2 linked regions of the Homo sapiens genome follow. The protein of the gene in region 1 interacts with the protein of each later gene in a pairwise test. Each region holds a gene or a part of one and is shown in the gene's direction. Other genes may lie near its edges.

Region 1 (15,496 bases):
AGAGATACTCACCTGTACTTTTCTTTCTTCTGGTGTCTTTGGCTTTGGTATCAGAGTGATGCTGGCCTCATAATGTGAGTTTGGAAGAATTCTCTCTTCTATTTTTTGGAAGGTTTAAGAAAGATTGGTATTAATTCTTTTTTTTAATGATTAATAGAATTCACCCATGAAACCATCTGGTCCTGTGCTTTTCTTTGTTGAGAGCTGTTTGATTACTGATTCCATCTCCATATTTGCTATTGGTCTGTTTGGGCTTTCTATTTCTTCATGATTCAGTTTTGGCAGGTTGTATATTTCCAGACTCTATCCATTTCTTCTGGGTTTTCCAGTGTTTTGGTGTGTGATTATTCGTAATAGTCCGTTATGATCCCTTTTATTTCTGAGGCATCTATTGTAATGTCTCCTCTTTCATTTTTTGTTTTATTTATTTGAGTATCTCTTTTTTTCTTAGTCTTGCTAAGGGTTTGTCAATTTTGTTTAGTTTTTCAAAAACCAACTCTTAGTTTTGTTGACTTTTTTCTGTTGTTTTTCTATTCTCTATTTGATTCATTTCTGCCCTAAACTTTCCTTTCTTCTGCTTACTTTGGGCTTATTTGATTCTCCTTTTTCTAGTTTCTTGAAGTGTAAAATAAGGTTGTTTAATTCAGATCTTTTTTGTTTTTTAAATCGGCATTTATTACTATAAACTTTCCTGTAGGTACTGCTTTTGCTGCATCCCATACATTTTGATATGTATATTTTTGTTTTCATTTATCTTGAGGTTTTTTTTTTTTTAGATAGGATGTTTTGCTCTGTCACCCAGGCTCAATGCAGTGGCACAATGATACCTCACTGCAACCTTGAACTCCTGGGCTCAAGCAGTCCTCCTGCCTCAGCCTCCTGAGTAGCTGGGACTACAGGATGTACCGCCATGCCCAGCTAATTGTTTTTAAAATTTTTAGAGGAGATGAGGTCTTGCTGTGTTGCTTAGGCTGGTCTCGAACTCCTGACCTATCTAGAGATAATTTTAAAATTCCTTTTTGATTTCCTCTTTGACACAATAGTTGTTCAAAAGTGTGGTGTGTAGTTTCTATGTATTTGTGAATTTTCCTGTTTTCTTAAGTTATTGATTTCTAGTTTCATTCCATTATGGTGGGAAAAGATACTTAGGACGATTTACATCTTCTTAAGTTTGTTGATACTTCTTTGTGATTATATAGCCTAAAGAATATTCTGTGTACACTTGGGAAGAATTCTATTCTTCTGTTATTTGGCAAAAAGTTTTGTATATGCGTATTAGGTCCATTGGGTTCATAGTGTTGTTCAGTTCTGTTGTTTGCTTATTGATTTCTGACTGGATGATTTATCCATTACAGAGAATGATGTATTGAAGTTACTTGCTATTATTATTATTATTTTGAGATGGAGTCTCGCTCTGTCGCCCAGGCTGGAGTATAGTGGCGCGACCTCGGCTCACTGCAACCTCCGCTTCCTGGGTTCAAGCAATTCTCCTGCCTCAGCCTCCCAAGTAGCTGGGATTACAGGCATGCACCATCACGCCCAGCTAATTTTTGTATTTTTAGTAGAGACGGAGTTTCACCATGTTGGCCAGGCTGGTTTCGAACTCCTGACCTCAGGTGATCCACCCACCTCAGCCTCCCAAAGTGCTGGGATTACAGGTGTGAGCCACTGTGCCCGTCCTACTTGCTATTATTTTATTACTGTCAATGTTTGCCTTCAGATCTGTTGTTGCTTTATATATTTAGGTGCTTTGATGTTGGGCACATATATATTTATAATTGTTACATCTTTCTGTTGTATTGACCCTTTTATCATTATATAATGACTTTTGTTCCCTCTTGTGATGATTTCTGACTTAAAGTTTATTTTGTCTGATAAAAGTTTAGCCACTCATGTTCTCTTCCGGTTACTTACTTGCATGGAATACCTTTCTCTACCCTTTTACTTTCAGCTTATGTGTGTCTTTAAATCTAAAGTGAGTCTTTTGTAGACAGCATGTAGTTGGGTCTTGTTTTCATCCATTCACTCATACTATATCTTTTGATTTGAGAGTTAAAGTAATGATTGATAGGTAAGGACTTACTATTACCATTTTGTTGGTTGCTTTCTGTTTTGTGGTTCTACTATTCCTCTCTTTTTCTCTTTGTGATTTGATTTTTATTTTTGTAGTGGGGTATTTTGGTTCTTTTTATCTTTTGTGTATCTACTGTGCTTTTTTGTTCATCGGGTTTGCATCAAACATTTTATAGTTATAGCACTCTGTCTTACGCTGAGAAGAAATTACTTTCAATGACGTATAGAAACTCTACACTTTAGTCCCCATTCACACACCTAATGTAATTAATTTCAGGTTTTACTTTATTTTTGAGACAGGGTCTTGCTCTGTCACCTAGGCTGGAGTGCAGTGGTGCGATCTTGGCTCACTGCAGCCTCTGCCTCCCGGGTTCAAGTGATTCTCCTACCTCAGCCTCCTGAGTAGCTGGGACTACAGGCACACACCACCACACCTGGCTAATTTTTTATATTTTTAGTAGAGATGGGGTTTCACCATGTTGGCCAGGCTGGTCTCTAACTCCTGGCCTCAAGTGATCTGCCTTCCTCAGCTTCCCAGAGTGCTGGGATTACAGGCACGAGCCACTGTGGCCAGCTGCATCTTTTAGTTTCTACTTGAACTTCCTTTAGTTGCTCTCATAAGGCTGGTGTAGTCATGACAAACTCCAGTTTTTGTTTGTCTGGAAAAGTCTTTATCTCTCCTTCATTCTTAAAGGGCAATTTTGATGAGTAAAGTATTCCTGGTTGGCAGGTTTTTTTTTCTTTCTTTTAGTACTTTGAATATATTATCTCCCGCTTTCCTGGCCTGCAAGGTTTCAGCTGAGAAATTCACTGATAGTCTTATAGAAGCTTCCTTGTATATTATATGACAAGTAGGTTTTCTCTTGCTGCTTTCAGATTTTTTCTTTTTGAGTTTTAACAACTTAATTATAATGAGTCTTGGTGTTTAACTTATTTGGAGACCTTTGGGCTTCATGAATTGAAATGTCCCTTTTCCTCCCTAGATTTGTTAAACTGTTAGCCTTTAGTTTTTAAAAATAAGAAGCTTTCTGCCCCTTTTTCTTCTCCTTAACTCCCATATGCCTGTATTATTTTCACTTGATGTTGTCCCATAAGTCCTGTATACTTTCCACATTCTTTTTTATTCTTTTTTCTTTTTGTCCCTCTAATGCTATCATTTCAAATGACCTGTCTTTTAAGTTTCCCAGTTCTTTTCTTCTGCCTGAGTCTGCTGTTGAAGCTGTCTCTTGAGCTTTTCAGTTGAGTCATTGTATTCTTCAGCTCCAGGATTTCTATTTGCTTCTTTTTTATGGTTTCTGTTTCTTTATTAAACATCTCTCTTTATTCATTTATTTGCTTTCCTGATTTTGTTTAGTTGTAGTTCATTGAGCTTCTTTAAGATGATTATTTTGGATTCTTTGTCATGCAATTCATACATCTCTATTTATTTAGGGCCAGTTACTAGAGGTTTATTAGTTTCCTTTGGTGGTGTCATTTTTGCCTGGTTCTTTATAATTCATATAGCCTTGCAATGGAGTCTATGCATTTGAAGGAGCAGGGGCCTTCCAGTTTTTATGGACTCGTTCGCCAAGTAAATACCTTCTCCTATTGAGTCCCTGGGTTGATGGGATTGCCTGTGGTATTGTGATTAAGCAGGGCTGAAGCTAGATTATGGGGCTACATTAGGGTTCACAGTCAGTGGGCGTACCACTAGGGGCATGGACAAGTATGTCCCATGGATGGGGAGAGCTGTCTCTGGAACTCAATAGGGTGGGACCCAAGCTGGGTCCCAGGCTGGTTTGGGTTTATGTTTGGGTCCAATCAGCAGCCCTTTTACCAGAGGAATGGACAGGCATGATTTCCACAAGGCCCCTGTTAAGGCAGGACTTCCTCTTGGCCACAGTAGAGCAGGGCTGGAGCCAGGTCAGAGTGCTGCTTTGAGTCTGCAGTTGGGTCTGGTTGGTGGATCTGTTACTAGGGGCATCAACAGACATGGTTCCTTCCCAGGATGGATGAGGCTGGTGGTAGGACTGCAGACAAGTGGGACTGGAGCCGGGTTTACAAGGGACAGGCTGATTCTGGGTCTGTAGCTGAAAGGTCAGTGGGCCTGCCTTCTCCAAGCAGCCCTTCCTAGTCTTGGGCTCCACCAAGGTTTCATAACCACCTACCTCAATCCTAAGGTTCTTACAATGGCACTTATGGCCATGGATGGCTTCCAAACTATTGTTTCTGTAGGAGGACCAGGGCTGGGGACATTCTCTTTTGCTATCTTGCTTACGTCACCTACAACCTACTTTAAAAGTAAATTTGTTCTAATGAGCATAATGAGAAACAAAGATTTTAAAAATAAACTAAATAATTAATGCCTAAGTAATTCCAGGTTAATTTTGTATACTCCAGTTCTTCCTATCAGGTATTTGTCATTCAGAGAGGTAATAGTATGAAAAGAATATTTTAGGAGTATATGAGAATATTGTATCTTTTTTTAGAATATGGTTGGCTAAAATATTTACATCTGCTCCTAAAATATTCCTGCATAAGCTTGCAGTGAGCCGAGATTGCACCACTGCACTCCAGCCTGGGCGACAGAGCAAGACTCCGTCTCAAAAAAAAAAACAAACCTATATATATACATATATATGTATATATGTATTCCTGCATAATATTATCTTGGTGTTTATATTACCTGTGAAGCTGTAAGTATATTCTTTTATTTCTGTAACAATTTGACAATTGAAGAAAAGTATGTGTTGAATTTTTAGCATCTACTACACACACACGCACACACACACACACACACACACTACTGTTGTACTTTGTAATATCAAGACACTGATAAAAGTTTTGGTGTTGTATTGTTATGGATTAAGACAAAAAAATTAAAAGATGAGATGGAGGAGCTCTTTCTATTGTAGGATTATCTATTGTTTTCATGTTTGATCTGTAGTGAAGTATATTAGTGAAATAGAGAAACAGAATGATGAGTACTAAGCTATTCATAAAATTTCAGTAGTGTGTAATACTTGTAGTTTTGAAACAAAATCAGCTAATATCACCTTGACTTTTCCCCATCTTCCTATTAAAAAAAATTGTTTTAATTCTGGATTTATGTTTTCTAATTTTCTTTTCCAGTTACCCTGCAGTTTGTGAATTTTTGCAGAACAATAATTTACTATCAATTATCAGAGCCCATGAAGCCCAAGATGCTGGGTAAGTTACATTAAAATTGTACCAAATATCGCTGCAGAGTCTTTGCATTTAATATGCAGACAGATGGACTTTCATCTCTTTTTCAGGTATCGAATGTACAGGAAGAGCCAAGCCACAGGCTTTCCATCACTTATTACAATTTTCTCTGCCCCCAATTACCTAGATGTCTATAACAATAAAGGTAAAGGAATCCAGCAATATTTGAGTTTGAATTTATGAGTAAACGTGAGCTCTGGTTTAATTGTATGTACGTATGTGTGTTTGTGTCATTTTAAAACATAAATTTTAAATAAGAAAAAAAGGGGTCTTAGTTGAAACAAAGGCCAAGAAATTTAGAATTTATGCTGCTGCTTGGTCTTTATCTCCTAAGGATTACTGGCTTCTTTGTGAGTATAAATAATGATCATAATAGGTCAGATTGATACTACAGAATCAAAGTATAAGAAGAATAAATTGCTTCAGGCTCATGCCAGAATAGTTAGCATAAATTATTGGTTTTGGTGAATTTAATGTGTTTATAACAGTATCTCAAAGTCACCATTGGTATTTTAATCTTTGTGAATTATTAAACTATTTTTGTTTTTCTTGAGATATGGTCTAGGTAGAGTGACCTAGTGTACAAAGTCAAAAAAAAACCTTCATTTTTAGTTTAAACCCTGCCAGAAACGAATACTGTGACTTTGAGTGAGTCACATTATCTTTCTAATCTTCAGTTTCCCATATGAAAAAAGAAGAATGGATATATACATGCCTTTTGTTCCAGAAATTTTACTTCTAAGACTTTATCCTGTTAAAGTCTTTTTTTTAATTTAAAACTTTTATGATTAATAGTTTATAAGTTTTCTATCGAGGCAGTGGTCCTACTAAAAACTTCATATTTCTGTAACTATTTTGTTGTTTATAAAGTATGACTATAAATTAATAGGACTTTGAAAATAAACATGCCAGAACAAACATATCCAAATGAGTATTGTCCCTTCAAAGTAGTTACCTTGGGAGGCTACACACCTATTCCAACAATGCTGTCCTTGTTCAAAAACATTTTTGGAACTCCTCTTTTGGCATTGCCTTCAGAGTCTGCGACACATTCTTTTGATTATCCTCAATGATGGGAAATCTTCGTCCTTTGAGGGTGGATTTGATTTTTGGACAGCCAAAAGTCATTCGGAGTCAAGACTGATAAATAAGGTGAGTGATCAAGCTAGATGATACCATTTGGGGTCAGAAACAAGGTATGATTATAAGGTAATGAGACTGGTTTTTCTCGTGTTGCTGATACAGTGGCTCTGGAGGCACTTCCAAAAGAGGAGTTCCAAAAACGTTTTGAGTAATGGCAGCATCTCTGGATTAATTATATGGTAAGGCAACAAGTTGTGCTGAAAAGAACACAAAGCAAGGAGTCAGTCTAGTCCTGCTTCACTTTTAAGTGTGTCACATTTAACAAGATACTTCTCTGAGCCTCATCTTTAAAATATCTGTCATATGGGGTTGTTGAAGATAAGTTGGAATAAGGAAAATGGATATTAAAGTGTTGTTCAAAATATAAATTACTATAATAATACAGATTTTACTGTTATTGTACCTGATGTGATAATATCAAAGGACCACACTCATCTGATAAAAAGGTCTGGTGTGTTTGTAGCTGGTGGTTTCTTAAGTCTCATTACTTTATAGTTATACCTTGTATATGCAGTTGGGGAGATAAGTTTCAAAGATGGCCAAAATATAATTAATATTTACTCTATTTAAAAGTAAACCATGGAATGGCACATCTCATTTAAATCCGATTTGGGTCAGTCATTTTAGTGTGTCCTCCAGTGACTTGTCTATTTTAAAAAGCATGTCTTTAACTTAAGTTCTGTCCTAGTCTTATGTTTTCATTTAACTTAGCATTCTTCTCTGAGCCTTATCTGTCCTACAATGCTCTGCTTCTCCCTAAGTTCATTTGTTATTTCCTTTTTCCTGATATTTCCAGTATATTAGCAACTTAGGTTTTATTCTTATTTATTCTCTTATCAATGGTGTGGACTGTTTGTGTTGTTAAACGTCTTCAAGGACTCTTGTGGCCCTAGATCTCCTATTTGTAATGAAGGTGTTTCTTTCTCACTTTCTTTTTTAACTTCATCAAAAAGAGTATCTATTGATTGCTCAATGGATTTATCAGTGTGCCAAGCTGAAACACGCCACCTAAGTCAGCAGGCACTATACAGCTCACTCACTGCTAGCTTGTTTTTTGTCTCAATCTAACCTGGTTTTGTTCTTGATTATTTCTTTAGCAAACTTTTAACATCACAGTCCTGGCCAGGCACAGTGGCTCATGCCTGTAATCTCAGCACTTTGGGAGGCCAAGGGGAGGATCACTTGAGGCCTAGAATTCAAGACCAGCCTGGGCAGCAAAATGTGACCCCATCTTTACAAAGAAAAATTTAAAAGTTAGCCAGGCAAGGTGGAGCATGCCTATAGTCCTAGCTACTCAGGAGGCTGAGGCAGTAGGATCCTTTGAGTCCAGTAGTTCGAGGCTGCAGTGAGCTGTGATCACACCACTGCATTCCAGCCAGGCAATAGAGCAAGACCCTGTCTCTAAAAAATAAAAAAAAAAGTAAAAGCCACAGTTCATTCTACCTGAGTATTCTGTCGGCTTTGACATAATTAGTAACTTTTATCTCAAAACAGTCTTATTTTCATTGGTTGTTTCTTAGGCATTTTAGAAGGAAAAAGGCAGAAAATGTGGCATTTGAAACAGTCCCTGGGGGTACTCAGTTACTCCCCATACAAGTGCCTTCTTTTCTGAAAAAGGGAACTCTATTATTCTTTTTCTTCTTCCTTTTCTTCTACTGTTGCTCTTCTTTCTCTTTCTCTCTTTTCTTTTCTCTCTCTTTCTCTCTCTCTTTCTTTTCTTTCTTTTTCTTTCTGCTTCCTTTTCTTCTTTCTTTCTTTCTTTCTTTCTTTCTTTCTTTCTTTCTTTCTTTCTCTCCCTCTCTCTCTCTCTCTTTCTTTCTCTCTCTCTCTCTTTCTCTCGGTCTCTGTCACTTAGGTTGGAGCACAGTGGCAGGAACTTGATTCACTGCAGCCTCGACTTCCTGGGCTCAAGTGATCCTCCCACCTCAGCCTCCCAACTAGCTGGGACCACAGGTGCATGCCGCTACACCTGGCTAATTTTAAAATATTTTTTATAGAGATAGGGTCTCGTTATGTTGCCCAGACTGGTCTCAAACTCCTGAGCTTAAGCAGTCCTCCTGCCTCGGCCTCCCAAAGTGCTGGTATTACAAGTGTGTGCCACCACACCTGGCCTCTTTCATATTATTTTTTTTTTTTCAGAGACAGAGTCTCACTGTGTTGCCCAGGCTGGAGTGCAGTGGTGCGGTCTTGGCTCACTACAACCTCTGCCTCCCGGGTTCAAGCAATTCTCCCGCCTCAGCCTCCCGAGTAGCTGGGACTACAGGTGCACGTCGCCACGCCTGGCTAATTTTTTTTATTTTAGTAGAGACGGGGTTTTACCATGTTGCCCAGGCTGGTCTCAATCTCCTGAGCTCAGGCAATCTGCCCACCTCGGCCTCCCAAAGTGCTAGGAGTGCTCTTTCATATTCTTTAGACTTCTTGGTATCTACAGGTATTTCCTAGTTCCACTAGTTACACGAAAGACCTTTAATCATGATTTTTAAAGATTCTTATTCTTGTTTTCTTCTGTCCACTGGGAACACACCCAAAAGCAGTTTTATAAGCTCTTGTTTCCAGTCATTCACTGTTGAGACTCACCTCCCACTTCTTTTTCCTGGGTAGAAATTGAGGGAGTTGTTGAATAATGATATATGACATATTTACCTAAACTAAATAAAATACATACACGTGAAAATAATGGAACATGTACATCATAGCCAGTGTTAGGCTTTTTAAGTGCTAGAAACTATATTTTAATTTATTTTCTTAATAATATATGGTGTACATTTTAGACATTCAATAACTTAAATTTTAAGAACACTAGATTATCCTGTAGCAAAGAAACAGGAATGAGGACGTGACCTATATCTGTCATTTCTGGAGAACTGTTACACCCTGTTTTATTTTATGACCACAGAATAATTAAGAGAATAGTGCAAACAACATTGCTGGTGATAAAGGCTAAGGAATTGGATTTTAAGACTTTCAAAATATAAAGAAAATCAGTTTGGCATCAAAGTATGTGTGCGACTATCTGAATGGTTAATATTAAACATAGCATGCTGGCAATACACTGCTGTGTATTGGAGAAATCGGCAATTTTAAAATCCGCTATATTGAATACAGAGATGACTTAATCTAATTTTGAACATTTAATTGTAAATTGCTCCAAGTTTGCCATTTGTATCTTCCAGTATGAGTTGATAACTGCAATATATAAACTCCCAGAGAGTGTATACAATCTTTGACTCTGGCTAATGACTAGCAAAACAGGCTGTGTCCATTTAATGAGTAATTTTTGCCTTCAAAGGAGAGTTGTAATTATAACCATTTGGCCTATAAAAGGAAATTATGGGGAAATTTTCCTCACGTGGATCTTGAGGTTTATATAGATAGTTACTGTGCAGTGACTCCAAAGTTTCAGTTTCTTTTGTACTTTTATTATATGAGCTCTTCAGGTAACTTTGTTCCTTGGAATAATTCTTAAGAGAATGAACTGAATAAAAGGCTTTAAAATTTTCCATCTGCCCTTTACCTAGTCAAGTCCTGACTTTACAAATGGAAAGTTCTCGAATTCTGTGTAGCAGGTACACAGCTGTACAAAGCATACCACTTGCCATGCCATGTTCCTCTGTGCCAGATTTTCTTGCTTTTTTCCTTTTTAGCTGCTGTGTTGAAATATGAAAACAATGTCATGAATATCAGGCAGTTTAACTGTTCTCCACACCCCTACTGGCTTCCAAACTTTATGGATGTTTTCACATGGTCTTTGCCTTTTGTTGGGGAAAAAGGTAAGAGAACTAAAGCACATGTCTCATCAGTTGTTTGGTGACTGAGCATACCTTATATTTGCATGAGCCCCTCCATGATTCAGAAATGTTTTCTAATTTTGTTTGTTCTCTACATAGATTTTTTTTTTTTTTTTCTGAGATGGAGTCTCGCTCTGTCACCCAGGCTGGAGTGCAGTGGCACGATCTCAGCTAACTACAACCTCCGCCTCCCAGGTTCAAGCAATTCTCCTGCCTCAGCCTTCTGAGGAGCTGGGATTATAGGCACGTGCCACTGCACCCGGCTAATTTTTGCATTTTAGTAGAGACAGGGTTTCACCATATTGGCCAGGCTGGTCTCAAACTCCTGACCTTAAGTGATCCGCCCTCCTCAGCCTCCCAAAGTGCTGGGATTACAGGTGTGAGCCACCGTGCCCAGCCTCTACATAGATTTGTAAATGGCATGTAATTGGTTCTTAAATTTTAATATATTATGGTTTTTTTATTGTAAATATCAATTTAAAGTAGCTGACCTACTATGATCAAGATGTTAAAATAACATAGTTACTTGTCATTCCCTCAGATTTCTTCAGTACTGAAGAGATTTAAACAGAATTTATTGTCCTTACAATTTTATTTGTACAGCTACTCAAATTAGCTAAGCCTGTTGGACGTAGGCCTGTTGGCTTAACTTTGTAAAGTGGGAAAAAAATTTTCTCACGTGTGTATCAGTGTGGGAAGAAGCTCTGAACAGCAATCCGGTAAAATCAAGTAATTAGGCAATAGATCTTCAAAGACTCCAGACTTTTACTGGAGCAAGTAATCTACCCAAATTCTTTTTAAACCTGAAAGTTTACATTTATGCTACTTTTTATAGCTATTCTTACTAACATAATGATAAATAATTTTTGCTTATGCTTACTTAACATGTGTGTTTATTTAGATATCCACATTATTTTAGAGAAAGTACCTCATTAATCGCGTAAATTTTGGATTATTTTGTCTTACTTAGTCACAGAGATGCTGGTAAATGTGCTCAACATATGCTCTGATGACGAACTGATTTCTGATGATGAAGCAGAAGGTAAACTTTTCCTCCTTTGAACTAAAACTAGAAAGAGGTTTGGTTTTGGTTTTAGTTGTTTTAGTTTATTTTGAATGATTTTCTTTGTCTTATTAAAAATAAAGTTAGTTCATTGTAGAAAAATAAAATTTGAAAAATACGAGAAACCATAAATAAGGAAAAAAAGTCACCCATAATCCCATCATCTTATAGATATCCACAGTTAACATCTTAATGTATACTGTGTTAATTGTCTTTTATCTTTGCACATAGCTTTCCTCTGTAGTACACTATTTTTGTGGAGTTTCTTTGTAGACTAGTTTCTAATGGATCTGTAGTTGTCCATGTTGATCAGTGTTGTAACTAATCCCGGTGGTGTTGGTTATTGGAGTTTTTCCCAAGTTTTTGCCGACAAAACCCATATAGTTTTGAACATTTGTTTAGATAAAAATGTGCACATTCTCTTAACCAATATTTATTACATGCTTGATATATACCAAGTACTGTATTGTTTAGGTCCTTGCTCTCAATAAGCTTATTTGCTAGTGTAGGGAGGAAAAACAGTAAATAAATATGTCAGATGAAAGGAAGTAAAGCAATATTAGAAAATCAGGAATAACACTTCTTGATTATTTCCATAGGATGAATTTGTAGAAATTGAATATCTGTGTCAATTAGTACTTAAAATTACAATTCTGATACAGATAGAAATTTCTGATACAGCCTCTAGAAAGGCTGTACCACTTTACATTTTGCAGGATGCATAGTCACAGTGCTGTCTCCAATACTGTTTATGATACTTGTTATAGTCTGGTGTTACTAAGTTTTTAATTAAATTTTTAGTTTATATTTTTATGAGACTAATGGACAATTTTTTCTTGTGTTTGTTGGCAATGTTTATCTCTCTTTTGTGACTTGTCAATTCATATCTTCTATCCTTTTTTTGAGACAGAGTGTTGTTCTGTCACCCAGGCTGGAGTGCAGTGGCGCGATCTCTGCTCACTGCAACCTTCACCTCCCGAGTTCAAGCGATTCTCCTGCCTTAGCCTCACGAGTAGCTGGGATTATAGGCGCGTGCCACCATGACCAGCTAATTTTTGTATTTTTAGTATAGATGGGGTTTCGCCATGTTGCCCAGGCTAGTCTGGAACTCCTGAGCTCAAAGTGGTCTGCCTGCCTCGGTCTCCCAAAGAGCTGGGATTAACAAGCATGAGCCACCATGCCCAGCCCCATTTTGATTTTTTTCTTATTGGTGTGTGAGGGATCTTTTTATACAGTAACATTTTATTATATATGTAGCCAAGTACTTTTTTTCCTAGTGTGCTGTGGGAGGTTTGATTATAAAGGTAGGTCCTGACTTGTCTGACAATGCAAGAGATTCTGGAAAAGTGGTGGTCATCCAAGCACAAACCGGCCTCATCCTATCCAGGCTCTGTGCTAAGGTGGTTCCCTTAACTGTGAGGATAAACCATCTCCATCGTGGAGAAAACACAACTCCCTTTGGGAATCTAGAGGAAATTACCATACACTCTCATGCTTCAGGTTCTGCACTCATGCTTCAGGTTCCGCACTGAAGATCAACAGCATATGCAAGATAGCTTGCGAGTGTTTTTATTTATGGTATAGGAGATGACTACAAGGAACCAGTTCTTCTTGAGGAAATAGTGCAGCCAAGTGAAAAACAAAAGAAAAACCGAATATCCCCCTGGGCAACATGGTGAAACCCCATCTCTACTAAAAATGCAGAAATCAACCAGATGTGATGGCGAGTGCTTCTGGTCCCAGCTACTTGGGGGCCTGAGGTGGGAGGATTACTTGAACCTGGGAGGCAGAGGTTGCAATGAGCGGAGATCTTGCCACTACACTCTAGCCTGGCCAACAGAGGGAGACCCTGTCTCAAACAAACAAACAGAAACACATATATTTCCTATTCTTTCCCACCACAAACATAAAAATAAATAAATAAATAAATAAATAAATAAAAAGGAAGAATGGGCCGGGCATAGTGGCTCACGCCTGTAATCTCAGCACTTTGGGAGGCTGAGGCAGGTGGATCATGAGGTCAGGAGATCGACACCATGCTGGCCAACATGGTGAAACCCCATCTCTACTAAAAATACAAAAATTAGCTGGGGTGTGGTGGCACACACCTGTAGTCCCAGCTACTCGGGAGGCTGAGGCAGGAGAATTGCTTGAACCTGAGAGGCGGAGGTTGCAGTGAGCCAAGATCGCACTACTGCACTCCAGCCTGGCGACAGAGCGAGACTCATCTCAAAAAAAAAAAAAAAAAAAAAAAAAAAGGAAGAACAATTATATCCCCTGAAAGAGAAGCTATAGAATCCATTAAACAAAAAAACATACTATTCCTGTGAAGAGATTTGTAAACTGTTCTGTCCTCCGTTTTTGTTCCTTGTTTTTGGCATCATTTATTCTGCAAATAATATCTTTGTTTAATGTTATTTTCATGATCTGTGGGGTTAGAAAATATTGGATGCTCATAGATGTGAATTAATGTAAAACCATAAACTTTTAAGAAATGGAAGAAACTACTGACAAAATAAATTTGCAATTTAATGTTGTATCATGATTCCAAGGATATCTCTTATGAGCTGGTAAAGATAATAGCCTGTTTCTCTCATTGCATTTCACTTTGATTTTTTTTTCTCTTTTCCATGTAAACATAAATTTCTCTTCTCATATTTCTGTCTTCATCTCCTTGTTTCTTGGTGTTTCTTCTCCCTGAAGATCACTACATTCCAAGCTATCAGAAAGGTATCCGACTAAACTGTGCTAAGAGCTTAATGCTTACTCTCTGTCCCACCATAGTCTATTGGTTAGACTTAAAATTGGTAGTTGAATAATTTCAGAAAGGCTCTCCATCCGCCCCTTCAGTTTTAATGTATATGTTTTCTCTGGACCTGTTGCGTGATCTGGCAGGGTGCTGAGGGTTGGATGTGAGGAAGGAGAGGCCATGTTTCTTTTTCTGACTTTTGACTGTAGTCACCTGGTGCATGCTGGACCTTGGCTTCTCATGTGTGGGCTATTTTCAGAATCTTAGATAAGAAAAAGCCATAAAGTCTTAAGTTAACTTTTTCTGTTGTTGCTTTTTAAAATAGTGCACAGTTGTAAGTAGTATCGTGAGGCAATAACTCACTAATATAAGTGAAGCTTATAGAATGAAAGCAGCCCTCACTAAGTTCAGGAGAGCTAGCTGGGTGTTGTGTTTACATACAGAAGACAGCTGCTGGAATGATCACTTGCCATTTGGCAGGCCGAACCCTGCACCCTAAGGTGGCCCACAGCATTATCAAAAGACATCTTTGCTGTAGCAGCTTTCTTTGTGAGGTTTGTTTATGTATGTGTGTGTTTTATTCTTTGCTGTGCTCTACGTTTCACAACCACAAATAAGTTCCTACCTCTCATAGATCCACCCAGTCTGTCTTTTTTGTGGCCTCTCATTTTTTACTTCATCTTTTTATCTTCTGAGTCATTTTTTCTCTTGCTCCTTAGAACTTCCTGAGATTTTTGTTTGTTTAAACAAACTTAAGCCTTCATTTCTGTTTTTTAAAAACAATTGTTTCTTTAACTTAAGACACTTCATCCTGAATTTTTTAAAGGCAGCCTATTAACACATCCCTTTAACTTACTTATTCTTTGTATTCTCTAAGGAAGCACTACAGTTCGTAAGGAGATCATCAGGAATAAGATCAGAGCCATTGGGAAGATGGCACGGGTCTTTTCAATTCTTCGGTAAGGATGTCTGTCATTACAGTGCGGATTAAAGGCATTTTGAGAGTAAATTAGACGTCGAATTCAGAACAGTTTTTTTATAATTGGAATGTAGTATTGAAACTGCAGGTCTTTAGGTTGAGTGCAAATTCAATGAACATGTTTAAGCGACTAAAAATGTTCCAGCAAACATTGATTTGTTAGTAGCTTAGATGTAGTGAATGTAGTGGTTTAGTGTGGACTTTCCAACCCGATTGCCTGTGTTCAAATTCTGGCTCTACCTCTTCTTACCTGTGTGATCTTGGGTTTCATCTCTGTGCCTTAGTTTCCTTGCCTGTAAAGTAATAATAGGCCCTAGCGCACAGGTTGTTAGGTGTATTAAATGGGATACAATATGGGAAATGTTAGAACAGTGCCTGGCTGTTAAACACTTCTAATTGAAAAACAAGAACTGGCTGATTGTTTAAAATGAAAATATTTGTGGAAAACATCCCTTTCTTTGAGTCAGGGAAGGCGT
Region 2 (14,015 bases), on another chromosome or scaffold:
GACGGAGTGAGACGCCGTCTCAAAAAAAAAAAAAAAAAAAAAAAAGATAACACTATTTCTTTCATGGCTTTCATGGATGACCCTAAGGATCTGCCTCCACTTAGCCTCAGATAAGAAAAGAGCTAATATGTCACCAAGGTGGCTCAATAATCCCCTCCTTGGTCAGCAGTCTGAGCCCTGTGTGGCGGTCACTCAACTGTTATATAATCTGCCCGACTGTTTCTGTGGCTCTGAGTGAGCGTGGCTTATACTATCTGTCCTCACCAGAACAGGGCTGGGGTGAACGGCCATTCGGTACATACCTTCAACTGGAACAGGGTATCTGCAAAGAAAGAGGGAATTAATGGTTTGAGGATTGGGAATGGGACGTTACACTTCTGGCAGGCAGGACTCACTAGGTTCCTTCTAGACACCAGGAGCTAGAACACACACACAGACCACACCTGCCTGGGGCCTTCGGGGAGCCCCCCCCAACAGGGGAGGCACGAGACAGATTCGTGTGCCAGCCCTGGCTCCTTGCTAGCCACAGGGCCCAGCAAATGCAGACCCTCCCTCCCTGTTTCCTTGTTGGGAACATGAGGGTGGTACCAGCCAATCTCAAAGGGTTAGTGTGAGGACAGAAGAGGTCATGGACGCAGCATCTTTTGGCCATGGTTAGAATCCAAAAGATGGTGGTTTATAATTAATGCAACTTTGCAAATGTCCCTTGGGATTCTTTCCCAATTTAAAAGTTCACCTGTAATCCCAGCACTCTGGGGGTGCCGAGGCCAGTGGATCACTTAAAGCCAGGGTTTGAGGCCAGCCTGGGCCAATTTAAAAGTTCAGTACTTGACAGTTTACTTTTTACAGACTCTTTCTCCTCAAAGGTAAATGGATAAAAATAGCAAGGTGGTAACTCTTAGACATCAAAGAGCTGATTTCCAGCGGTACAGTCGCTCACGCCTGTAATCACAGCACTCTGGGAGGCTGAGGCGGGCAGATCACTTGAGGTCAGGAGTTCCAGACCAGCCTAGGGAATATAGTCAGACCTCATCTCTATTAGAAAAATATATATTTTTTTGCCGGGTGCGGTGGCTCACGCCTGTAATCCCAGCACTTTGGGAGGCCGAGGCCGGCGGAACATGAGGTCAGGAGATCGAGACCATCCTGGCTAACACGGTAAAAGCCCGTCTCTACCAAAAAATACAAAAAATTAGCCAGGCGTGGTGGCGGGCGCCTGTAGTCCCAGCTACTCAGGAGGCTGAGGCAGGAGAATGGCGTGAACCCGGGAGGCAGAGCTTGCAGTGAGCCGAGATTGCGCCACTGCACTCCAGCCTGGGCAACAGTGCAAGACTCCGTCTCAAAAAAAAAAAGAAAAAATATTTTTTTTAAAAAGTAGGATTGATCTCAATTCATTCAACTGCTAAATTTGGAGAGCGACCCTGACCCCAGATTCCTGAAAGGGCTTTACCACACTAGCCACAACGAGGAAATGGAGCCTGTAAAAGAATGAGGTTACTGAGTGTTCACAAATGCACACCAAGGCTCCAAGATGAGATCTCCCGGGGTTCCAGAAAGCTCTGGGCATCGTTCAATCTATCGCCTGTCAGTGCAGGCGTGGTCAAGGCCAAGTTCAACCTGTCATCTATCAGTTCAGGTGTGGTCACGGCCAAGGTTATCTGTGACTGGAAAACAGCCAGCCTGACCCAGATGGCACAGTGCAGGCCAGGCGGGCCGTCCCACCCAACTCACTGTGGGATGCTGGCCAAACCGCCCTCCTCATCTCAGCTTTCCCTCACCTCAGCTTTCCCTCACCTCAGCTTTCCCTCACCTCAGCTTTCCCTCACCTCAGCTCTCCTCACCTCAGCTTTCCTCACCTCAGCTTTCCCTCACCTCAGCTTTCCTCACCTCAGCTTTCTCTTCCAGCCGTGTGTGGCAGCACAAAAACCCAGCTAAGGCAAAATCTGACTCTGAGGAAATCTGACATGGGCTTGAGAGAAGTCCCCTCAAAAGAGTTGAGTGAGCTGTGGAGTGAAAAGCCACAATTTTTCTTTTTTTTTTTTGAGACGGAGTCTCACTCTATCACCCAGGCTAGAGTGCAACGGCACCATCTTGGCTCACTGCAACCTCTGCCTCCCAGGTTTAAGCGATTCTCCTGTCTCAGCCTCCCAAGTAGTTAGAATTACACGTGCACGCCACCAGGCCCAGCTAATTTTTGTATTTTTAGAAGAGACGGGGTTTCACCATGTTGGCCAGGCTGGTCTCAAACTCCTGACCTCAGGTGATCAACCAACCTCGGCCTCCCAAAGTGTTGGGGTTACAGGCGTGAGCCACCACATCCGGCCTCCCAAAGTGCTGGAATTACAGCCGTGAGCCACCGCGCCCGGCCTCCCAGAGTGCTGGGGTTACAGGCCTGAGCCACCACACCCGGCCTGGCCAGCATATTTTTTGTGGCGGGAGGTAGATGTTATCTTTCATCTTCTCTCAGGGCAGAAAATCTCTACACATTTCCTTCATGATGATGACACGGTGGTACTATAGCTTTTCACACTTCTAACTAAAAGAATTTTTTTTGAGACGGAGTCTCGCTCTGTCGCCCAGGCTGGAGTGAAGTGGCGCGATCTCGGCTCACTGCAAGCTCCGCCTCCCGGGTTCACGCCATTCTCCTGCCTCAGCCTCCCGAGTAGCTGGGACTACAGGCACCCGCCACCACGCCTGGCTAATATTTTTGTATTTCTAGTAGAGATGGGGTTTCACTGTGTTAGCCAGGATGGTCTCGATCTCCTGACCTTGCGATCCGCCGGCCTCGGCCTCCCAAAGTGCTGGGATTACAGGCGTGAGCCACCGCGCCCAGCCCTTCAAAAAGTATTTTTAAAAGCCTGCCCATCACACCAGCCCAACGATGTTTCAGCAAACATAGGACTTCATTTTGCCAGATTCTTCCTGTTCTTTGGTATCCCTGAGCACACAGCCGGCTAGCCCCAGATGTAGAAGGTAAGAATTAGGGCGACCCATTGAGCACAGAAACGCTTGTGCTGGCTCCTGCTCAAACCTCTGCTTCCCCACATGGAGAATGGACGCAAAGAGCTGCTGTGACCAGGGCCTGGCACTCAGGGAGCGCTTTCTGTCTGAGTCCTTCTGATTTGCAGTGATGCTGTTTGGGGCAGGGGGTGCAACTGTCACTTTTTCTGGTGCCCTCTGACCCGACATTCCAAGTCCCGAAAGGCCGAACAGGCATCGCACAGTCCCCCCTACCGAGCTGGCGGGAAAGGGCGCCTGACGCTGAGGAGTGCCAGGGGCGGGGGAAAGGGTCCTGGGTCGGTGGTCGGGGGTCCAGGCCCTGGGCAAGGGGTCCTGGGTCGGGAGTCTAGGTCCCGGGTCCATGGTTGGGGGTCAGAGGTCGAGGCCCCGGGGAAGGCATACCGGGTTGAGATTTGGGGATGGAGGCCCCGGGGAAGGGGTCCCGAATCGGGGGTCGGGGATCGAGGCCTGGGGGGAGGGGTCCCGGGTCGAGGGTCGAGGCCCGGGGTAAAGGATCTCGGGTTGGGGGTCGGGGGCCTGGGAAGGGTCCCGGTCGGTGGTCGGGGGTCGAGGCCCGGGAGAAGGGGTCCCGGGTCGGTGGTAGAGGCCCTGGGGAAGGGGTTCCGGGTCGGGGATCGAGGGTCGAGGCCCGGGAAAAGGGGTCCCGGGTTGGTGGTCTAGGCCCTGGGGAAGGGGTTCCGGGTCGGGTATCGGGGGACGAGGCTCGGGAAAAGGGGTCCCAGGTCGGTGGTCGAGGCCCTGGGGATGGGGTCCGGGTCGGGGATCGGGGGACGACGACCGGGAAAAGGGGTCCCAGGTCGGTGGTCGAGGCCCTGGGGATGGGGTCCCGGGGGATCGACGGTCGAGGCCCGAGCTCTCCTGAGTCCTGCCCGCGGCCCCAGGTGGGCGGAGCCCACGCCAGTGGGAGAAGCGGCCCCGCCCCGCGCGCGAGTCCCCGGAGGACGGCCGCGACCTCTTACCGTCCATGGCCACAATGACAGGAGCAGCACTCGGAGAGGGAGAAGGGACGCCAACTCCGGGCGGTGTCAGGTCCCGGCGGCGATCGAACCGACCAAGCTGCACCCGGCGGGGACTTCCGGGGTCGCCGCCCCACTTCCGGTCGCACGGGATGCTCTCGCGAGAGGATGGTGGCCGGTCCCGCCAGAGGGGCGGGGCGCGGCTGCGCGGCGCGCGGTCGCCATGGTGACGCACGCCGCTGGCGCGAGGACCTTTTGTGAGTCGCTCCCGGCTCCGCGGCCGCGGAGGTGTGGGGACCCGGGCTTGCGTCGGAGGGGGCGGTGGGCTCACCCATGGGCCTTTCCAAAAGCAAAGAGAAACCCAGGAAAGGTAAAGGAGGCGCAGGCGCTGGGCTCCCCGCGTCTCCGCCCCTGGGCGCGGGCCCAGGGCGGGGCTGGGCTGGGCGGGGCGGTGTGAGCGCAGGCGCCAGGCTCGGCCCGGTGCGAACCGTTCCTGCCGCCGAGTCCGCCACGGACGGCGCGTTTCCCGCCTGAGGCGGTTACGGAAACGCGGAGACTCGAGACTTGAAGCCAGCTTATTCTGGACCCACGCAGGCGACTGAAGACGATGGGACCCACTGCCCTGCATTCGGTAAGTCCCGGGTCTAACGGATGATCCATATATTTCAGGTGAGGAGCAAAAGAAGGGATCCACCTATTCAGTTCCAAAATCTAAGGAGAAGTTGATGGAGAAGCATTCCCAGGAAGCCAGGCAGGCAGACAGGGAGTCGGAGAAGCCTGTGGACAGCCTCCACCCGGGGGCCGGGACAGCCAAGCACCCGCCGCCGGCAGCTTCGCTGGAAGGTAGGAGACGGCGGGAGGGAGCGAAGCGAGGTCAGTGGCTTGGAGGATCTGGGGCTGGGGTGAGGAGCCTACTGTAAGACCCTACCGGATGGACACTAGTAGCAGGCACGCGCCGTAAAGATGAAACTGGTTTGTTTTGGGAACTTTATGTAGGAGGTAAATATCCAGAAATCTTAGTTGAAAACATAAGTTTAATGAAAATGTAGGTCAGTTCCCGAGTGATAAGTGCGTACCAGGTGGTCGAGGGGCTGGGGCAGTGTGCGTGTGTCTCACCTGAGGTTCTCCTCGAGGGCTGGGTATCTTGGTGCCACTGAGAATCCCTGAGCCTCCGCACACTGGAACAGAGCATTGGGAGGCCGTCCCAGGCTGGACTGTAGCTCTCCGAGGGCTGTGGGGATAAGTACATTGCGGAGGGTGACCGAGGAGTAGAACCTGGGTGCGACAAAGGTGTCTTTTATAACAGCCTAGTGTGGCCAGACCTTTGGGTGTGTGTGGGGAAGATGAGGCCCCAAAAGTAGGAAGAAGCTAGAATACAAAGTTTTCCATCAGTTTTACCACGTGGAGCTGGAAGCGTTAAATATTTTAAACAACGGAGGTGCTGCCTGGGGCGGTAGTTCACACCTGTCCTCCCAGTTATTTGGCCGAGGCAGGAGGATCTTTTGAGCCCAGGAGTTCAAGACCAGCTTGGGCAACATAGTGAGACCCTGTCTCTACAAAAAATAAATATTTAAAAATAAAAAACAAGGGCGGCATGATGAGGTCTGTGCCTACCAACAGGGGAAGCCAGTTCGCAGGGGAGGTGGCCCGGTCAGAGACCCATTGCTGTGGCCCAGTGGGAGCCAGCAAGGCCTTGCAGTAGGAATTGCAGAAGGGTCAGGCAGGGAGAACCCGCAGAGCCTGCCGTCCGAGGAGATTGGGGGCCTGTGCCAGGAGGAGGTGTTTTAAGTTTCATCACAAGAATGAACCACTCGGCTGGGCGCAGTGGCTCACGCCTGTAATCCCAGCACTTTGGGAGGCCGAGGCGTGTGGATCACTTAAGGTCAGGAGTTCAAGACCAGCCTGGCCAACGTGGTGAAACCCTGTCTCTACTAAAAATACAAAAATTAGCTGGGCGTGGTGGCATGTGCCTGTAATCCCAGCTACTCAGGAGGCTGAGGCAGGAGAATTGCTCGAACCTTGAACCGGGACCCGGGAGGCAGAAGTAGTGGTGAGCGAGATCGCACCACTGCACTCCAGCCTGGGCTACAGAGTGAGACTCTGTCTCAGAAAAAAAAAAAAATAATAAGGAGAGAACCACTCGGGTCAGACAAGAAAGAATGTCAGGGGGATGACTGGCCTGCTAGGCAGAGGAGCTGGGCCTGGACTGCTTCACACTGACACGCTTGTAGGATCAAGGGCTGAAAGTAGGAGGCTCTGGGCCTTGGACTTGGAAGAAAGACTTGGATTTGAATTCCCAACTTTGGAACCTCCCACTGGAGGGTGGAACCCCTCACAGGAGGGCGCAACCCCCCACCGGAGGATGGAACCCTGCAGGAATAGCATCACCCTTGGGTGGCAGTTTGGAAAATGCTACCTGTCTGTCACGGTGCTTTTAGCTGAAAGTTACAGAAAAGCTCACTAAACGCAGCTTTAACACAGGGATTTAATGTCTCACGAATGAAGGGTCAGAGGTGGAGCTTCCAGGTTGGCTTGTTAGCACAACAGTGACATCAAAGACTTTGCGTGTCTCTTCTTGACCACTCTCAGTGTCCACAGCCCCCGATGAGTGTACAGCCCCCCACACGCAGGCAGGACTGCATCTACTGCAAAGGCATTGCTCCTTGCTTCATATTAGCAAGGAAACCTTTCCCAGGAAGGCTTCGCCTGCCCAGCCTCTGCAGGACTCATTCAATGGTGCAAATTCACCAGGGGCTGGAGGGAGCTGTGAAGCATGGGAGTGGGCAGGACCTCTGCCAGTAACGGAAGTGGGGGAAGGAGGACCGCCTGTTGGAAGGGCCCCAGCAGTGTCTGTCACACCAGAGGGTGGGGGAGGAAGGTGGACATGAAGGGAAAACAGCAGAGCAAGAGTGAGAACAGAGTTTCAGCAGATAAAATGAAGTGTGCACGCTCTCCATGCAGTGACGGGCTGAGCGACAGTGAGGAGCAGGCTGCTGACTCCCTTGCCACACCGTGAAGGAGTCCCAAAGGTGGGACACTGAGTGAGACAAGCCAGAGGAAAGACCACTCATGTTGCAGTTCCCTTTCCATGGAATGTCCAGAAAAGGCACATTTACAGAGAGAAGCAGATGAGTGGTTGCTGGGCAGAAATGGGAGCCGGCCACAGCTGAGCACAAGAGGACTTTGGAGGGTGATGGAAATGGTTTTCGACCTGAATCTGAACATGGGAAGCACTGCAGTTTAGTAGTCCTGGTCCCTAAGCCCTTCCAGCCCAGGAGCCAGACCTGTGAGCAAACAAGCCTTTAGTGATTCCAGGCTCTGGCTGGAACCTTGAGTCTTCTCAGCTTGGGGCATGCACCTCAGGGGGAGCCAGCATCAGTGTCCAGCCCCAAGAGCTTCCCTGTACGTCTCAGTGAGTCTTCACATGCCTCCAACTGCCTGGACAACCACACGTGATACCTGTCCTGCCAAACGTGTCCTGAACCCATAAAATCCAGAGAAAAGAAAATCGTTTTAAACTGCTGAGGTTTGGGGTAAGTTACTATGAAGCAGTAGTGAGAAGAACAGAAGGGCCATGATGGGGAGAAAGTTTGGCCATAAGTTAATCACTGTGGCAGCTGTTAGGATATTGATGTGGCTTGGCTGTGTCCTCACCCAAATCTCATTTTGAATTCCCACATGTGGGAGGAACTGGGTGGGAGGTGATTGAATTATGGGGGCAGGTCTTTCCTGTGCTGTTTTCGTGATAGTGAATGAGTGTCACGAGATCCGATGGTTTTAAAAACGGGAGTTTCCTGCATAAGCTCTCTCTCTGCCTGCTGCCATCCATGTAAGATGTGACTCGCTCCTCCCTACCTTCCGCCGTGATTGTGAGGCGTCCCCAGCCATGTGGAACTGTAAGTCCATTAAACCTTCTTCCTGTGTAAATTATTCAGTCTCTGGTATGTCTTTATTAGCAGCATGAAAACGGACTAATACAGATAGATGTATTATACTGTTACCCCTACTACTTCTGTATATGCTTAAATTTTTGCATTACAAAATTCACAAACATACAAACATTATAGAGAACTAACATCACAGATTTACAGTCACCTTATTCCACAATGTTGGAAATTCTACCACAAATAAAGAACTTGAAAAAAAAGGAGGGGATGTTAGAAGGAAATCTGAGCGACCTAGACCTGGGCTCAGTCACGCCTGAGACAGTCAGATGGGGTATCTGAGGATGAGTCAGTGTTAATTTTCTCAGACCTGGGCTCCGTCACTCCTGAGACAGTCAGATTGGGTATTTGAGGATGAGTCCGTGTTAATTTTCTTAGATGTGGGAATGCTATTATAGTTACGCTAAAACACAATCCCTATCTAATAAATACACTGCAACATTTATGGGTAAAATCATATGTCTGAAATTCCTTAAAGATACTCAGAATGCCAGGCATGGTGGCTCATGCTGTCATCCCAGCACTTTGGGAGGCCGAGACGGGTGGATCACTTGAGGTCAGGAGTTCGAGACCAGCATGGCCAACATGGTGAAACCCTGTCTCTACAAAAAATACAAAAAAATTAGCTGGGTGTGGTGGTGCACACCTGTAATTCCAACTACTTTGGAGGCTGAAGCAAGAGAATAGCTGGAACCCAGGAAGCAGAGGTTGCAGTGAGCCACGATCATCCCACTGCACTCCAGCCTGGGCAATGGAGTGAGACTCCATCTCAAAAAAAAAAAAGATACTCAGGAAAAAAACGAAGAAAGAACAAGATAACAAAATACTGATTGAAGCTGAGTGCTCTATAGGTGCAGGTGCTCATTCACTATTCTATTTTCTTGTGTGTTTGAACACTTTTTTTTTTTTTTGAAATGGAGTTTCCTTCTTGTTGCCCAGGCTGGAGTGCAATGGCATGATCTCGGGTCTCAACTCACTGTAGCCTCCGCCTCCCAAGTTCAAGTGATTCTCCTGCCTCAGCCTCCCAAGTAGCTGGGATTACAGGCGCCCGCCATGACGCCCAGCTAATTTTTTTTGTATTTTTAGTAGAGATGAGGTTTCGCCACGTTGGCTAGGCTGGCCTCAAACTCCTGGCTTCAGCTGATCCACCCGCCTCGGCCTCCCAAAGTGCTGAGATCACAGGCGTGAGCCACCGCACCTGGCCTCCCAGAGCGCTGGGATCACAGGCGTGAGCCACCACGCCCAGCCTGTTTGAACACTTTTGTGACGTTTTGTTGTTTGTTTGTTTTGAGATGGAGTCTTGCTCTGTTGCCCAGGCTGGAGTGCAGTGGCACAATCTTGGCTCATTGTGACTTCCGCCTCCCGGGTTCAAGCAATTCTTCTGCCTCAGCCTCCCGAGTAGCTGAGACTACAGGTGTGCGCCACCATGCCTGGGTAATTTTTGTATTTTTAGTAGAGACGGGGTTTCACCATGTTGGTCAGGCTGGTCTCAAACTCCTGACTTTGTGAACCACCCGCCTCAGCCTCCCAAAGTGCCAGTGTTACAGGTGTGAGCCACCACGCCCGGCCTGTAACATTTTCATGAAGGTAGAGTATACTTAATTGCAAGAAAATTTTGAAAAAGAAGAGAAATGGAACACTTCTATTGGCTATTAAAAAATACCATGCTGAGTGAAAAAAGCCAATCCCAGAAGGTCACATGCTGTATGATTCCATTTCTTTTTTTTTTTTTTTTAGGCTGGAGTGCAAATGGCACGATCTTGGCTCACTGCAACCTTGGTCTCCCGGGTTCAAGCAATTCTACCTCGGCCTCCGGAGTAGCTGGGACTACAGGCATGCGCCACCATGCCCAGCTAATCTTTGTATTTTTAGTAGCGATGGGGTTTCTCCATGTTGGTCAGGCTGGTCTCAAACTCCCGACCTCAGGTGATCCGCTTGCCTCAAACTCCCGATCTCAGGTGATCCGCTTGCCTCGGCCTCCTGAAATGCTAGGATTACAGGCGTGAGCCACCATACCCGGCCGTGATTCCATTTCTGTAACATTCTCTGAATGACAAAATTATAGACAGGGAGGACAGATTGTTGATTGCTAGGGCCTTGGCGTTGGGGTAGGGAGTGAGGGGGTCTGTGAAGGGCAGGGCTTTGGGGTTGGGGTAGGGAGTGGGTGTGTCTGAAGGGCAGCAGGAGGAAGATGGGATTGTTGGTTTTGGTGGTGATTGATTAAATGGCGTAGCTGTACATACACTCATAGTACCGGAGTCCATTTCCTCGTGTCGATAATGGTACTATAGTTATATAAAACGTTCGCTTTGGGAGCCAAGCACAGTGGCTCACGCCTGTAATTTCAGAACTTTGGGAAGCCTAGGCAGGCAGATCACTTGAGCCCAGAAGTTCAAGACCAGCCTGGGCAACATGGTGAAACCTGATTTTTACAAAAAAGACAAGAATTAGCTGGGTGTAGTGGAGTGTGCCTGTAGCCCCAACTAATCAGGGGCCTGAGATAGGAGGATCCCTTGACCCCATGAGGTTGGGGCTGCAGTGAGCCAAGATCGTGCCACTGCCCTCCAGCCCCGGCGACAGAGTAAGACCCTATTTATGCTTCCTAGCAAGGAAAGACAGTACACATATTGAAGAATTTGACTGCGTTAAAATGTTAAACCTCTCCCCAAACTCTTATAAACAATTGTAGAACAAATGATAAGCTCAAAAAAATATTTACATCTATGAGAGGCCAAAGAATATCAGTTGACTCTGGATCAGGGGCTCGGACACGTTGCTGTGGAGGCACACATCTTCCTGGAAGGCGGTTTGGTAACAAGGTGGCAGGACTCAAGACAGCCCACACGATCCCTGCCCCTGGGAAACAGCCATGTGTAACCCTCCCCTCGAGTGTGGGTGGAATGAGGAAGAGGGAGGTGTGTCTCTCCTGCGATTAGCTCACTCATCCATTGAGTTTGACGTCATCAAAATGCGAGATGATCCTGGATGGGCCCGACCTGATCAGGGAAGCCAGACAGTAAAAGTGTCAGAGGCTCTTTAGGGCCCGACCTGATCAGGGAAGCCAGACAGTAAAAGTGTCAGAGGCTCTTTAGGGCCCGACCTGATCAGGGAAGCCAGACAGTAAAAGTGTCAGAGGCTCTTTAGGGCCCGACCTGATCAGGGAAGCCAGACAGTAAAAGTGTCAGAGGCTTTTTAGGGCAGCGAGAAAACGGGAACTTCATTCCTTGAACCGGGAATAAATTCTGCCTCCAACCAGAATGGGCTTAGAAGAGGGTCCTCCAGCTCCTCATGAGAATGCAGTGCAGCCGGCCCCTGGAATTCAGCCTGCGTCCCAGCCACGCTGCACCTGCACCCCTGACGACGAATGCAGTAAGATGATAAGTGGATGTGCTGGTTTCAGCCCTGAAGTTGGTGGTGATTTGTTGTGCAGCAATAGAAGTACACACAATATGTACCAAGAACCTTGAGAAGAGTCACATTTATTCTTTCTGTTTTGTTTCTGAGATGGTCTCACCCAGGCTGGAGTGCAGTGGCACCATCTTGGCTCATTGCACTCTTGACGTTCTGGGCTCAAACGATTCTCCCACCTCAGCTCCCTGAGTAGCTGGGGCCACAGTGCACGCCACCACCCCCAGCTATTTTTTGTAGTTTTTGTAGAGATGCGGTTTTGTCATGTTGCCCAGGCTGGTCTCGAACTCCAGAGGCCAAGCAATCTGCCTGCTTCAGCCTCCCAAGGTGCTGGGATTACAGGCGTGAGCCACCGCACCTGGCCCAAGATTAATATTTCTTTTTTTTTTTGAGATGGAGTCTTGCTCTGTCGCCACCCAGGCTGGACTGCAATGGTGCATCTCTGCTCACTGCAAGCTCCGCCTCCCGGGTTCATGCCATTCTCCTGTCTCAGCCTCCCGCATAGCTGGGACTACAGGTGCCTGCCACCACGCCTGGCTAATTTTTTGTATTTTTTTTTTTTTTAAGTAGAGATGGGGTTTCACTATGTTAACCAGAATGGTCTTAATTTCCTGACCTCGTGATCCGCCCGCATCGGCCTCCCAAGGTGCTGGGATTACAGGCGTGAGCCACTGCGTCTGGCCTAATATTTCTAAATGAAGAAACTATACTTTGAGGAAGATGAAATAAGTCTTGTTTTAGACTAGAAAATTTCAATAGTGTAAATACGTTAACTTCTGTAAAATCAGTCAACACCAAGTCAAAACACAAAAGATCTTTTGGGAATATGAGCAGATTATTCAAAGGTTCATCTAAAGAATAAAAATGAGGCCAAGTGTAGTGATTCACGCCTGTAATCCCGGCACTTTGGAGGCCGAGGCAGGTGGATCACTTGAGGTCAGGAGTTCAAGACCAGCCTGGCCAACATGATGAAAGCCCATCTCTACTAAAAATACAAAAATTAGCTAGGCGTGGTGATGGGTGCCTGTAGTGCCAGCTACTTGGGGAGGCTGGGGCAGGAGAATCACTTGAACCTGGGAGGTAGAGGTTGTAGTGAGCCAAAATTGTGCCACTGCACTCCAGCCTGGGCGACAAGAGTGAGAATCCATCTCAAAATAAATAAATGAATAAAAATGAAAGCAGTAGGAAACATCTGGAAAACCAGAGGCATGAGGGGGTCGGGCCCTCTGATACTCAAGTAGGTTAGAGTAAAAAAAAGCCAGATATGGTGATGTGGGAATATATGGTCCCATAGGTGGGATCTGTGGTTCCAGCTACTCAGTGAGGTCCGAGGATCACTTGGGCCTGGGAGGTTAGGACTGTAGTTTGCTATGATCACATCCACGAATAGCCACTGCGCTCCTTCCTGGGCTACAGAGTGAGACCCTTCTCTAAAAATGGAAGAAAATGGCCGGCACAGTGGTTCATGGCTGCTGTAATCCCAGCGCTTTGGGAGGGTGAAGTGGGAGAATAACTTGAGCCTGAGAGTTCGAGACCAGCCTGGGCAACATGGCAAAACCGTGTCTCTACAAAAAATTTCAAAATTAGGTGGGTGTGGTGGTGTGTAGGGTCCAGCCCCACAGGGTCGGTGGGTTTTCTCCCCATGTGCGGAGATGAGAGAGCGTAGAAATAAAGACACAAGGCAAAGAGATAAAAGACAGCTGGGCCCGGGGGACCACTACCACCAAGCCGTGGAGACCGGTAGTGGCCCCAAATGCCAGGCTGCACTGATATTTATTGGATACAAGACAAAGGGGCAGGGTTAGGAGTGTGAGCCATCTCCAATGATAGGTGAGGTCATGTGGGTCATGTGTCCACTGGACAGGGGGCCCTTCCCTGCCTGGCAGCCAAGGCAGAGAGAGAGGAGACAGAGAGACAGCTTACGCCGTTATTTCAGCATATCAGAGACTTTTAGTACTTTCACTAATTTGCTACTGCTATCTAAAAGGCAGAGCCAGGTGTACAGGATGGAACATGAAGGTGGACTAGGAGCGTGACCACTGAAGCACAGCATCACAGGGAGACGATTAGGCCTCTGGATAACTGCGGGCAAGCCTGACTGATGTCAGGCCCTCCACAAGAGGTGGAGGAGCAGAGTTTTCTCTAAACTCCCCTGGGGAAAGGGAGACTCCCTTTCCTGGTCTGCTAAGTAGTGGGTGTTTTTCCTTGACACTGACGCTACTGCTAGACCATGGTCTGCTTGGCAACGGGCGTCCTACCAGACGCTGGCGTTACCACTAGACCAAGGAGCCCTCTGGTGGCCCTGTCTGGGCATAACAAAAGGCTCACACTCTTGTCTTCTGGTCACTTCTCACCATGTCCCCCCAGCTCCTGTCTCTGTATGACCTGGTTTTTCCTAGGTTATGATTGTAGAGCGAGGATTATTATAATATTGGAATAAAGAGTAATTGCTACAAATTAATTAATGATATTCATATATAATCATGTCTGTGATCTAGATCTAGTATAACTATTCTTATTTTATATATTTTATTACACTGGAACAGCTCGTGCCCTCGGTCTCTTGCCTCGGCACCTGGGTGACTTGCCGCCCACAGTGGTGCGTGCTGGTGGTCCCAGCTACTTGGAAGGCTGAAGTGGGAGGATCATTTGAGCCCAGGAAGTTGAGGCTTCAGTGAGCCATGAT

What was found.
Region 2: the proteins of PPP3CC (region 1) and SPATA33 interact in binary tests that used the Homo sapiens proteins (3 or more experiments, as listed by UniProt).

The regions. Positions count from the first base shown.
Region 1 is NC_000008.11:22,517,307-22,532,802, forward strand, and holds part of PPP3CC (serine/threonine-protein phosphatase 2B catalytic subunit gamma isoform), read left to right. Parts: intron 1-5,184; coding exon 5,185-5,262; intron 5,263-5,348; coding exon 5,349-5,443; intron 5,444-6,336; exon of another isoform or gene 6,337-6,450; intron 6,451-10,085; coding exon 10,086-10,211; intron 10,212-11,199; coding exon 11,200-11,271; intron 11,272-13,995; coding exon of another isoform or gene 13,996-14,022; intron 14,023-14,918; coding exon 14,919-15,000; intron 15,001-15,496. UniProt on the Homo sapiens protein: Calcium-dependent, calmodulin-stimulated protein phosphatase which plays an essential role in the transduction of intracellular Ca(2+)-mediated signals. Dephosphorylates and activates transcription factor NFATC1.
Region 2 is NC_000016.10:89,653,602-89,667,616, forward strand, and holds the start of SPATA33 (spermatogenesis-associated protein 33), read left to right. Parts: upstream 1-4,234; 5' UTR 4,235-4,310; coding exon 4,311-4,347; intron 4,348-4,466; exon of another isoform or gene 4,467-4,646; coding exon 4,647-4,820; coding exon of another isoform or gene 4,821-4,850; intron 4,851-6,938; coding exon of another isoform or gene 6,939-6,949; exon of another isoform or gene 6,950-7,907; intron 7,908-14,015. Other genes in the region: CHMP1A (charged multivesicular body protein 1a), read right to left, coding at 3,981-3,987. UniProt on the Homo sapiens protein: Plays an important role in sperm motility and male fertility. Required for sperm midpiece flexibility and for the localization of sperm calcineurin to the mitochondria. Promotes mitophagy as well as acts as an autophagy mediator in male germline cells.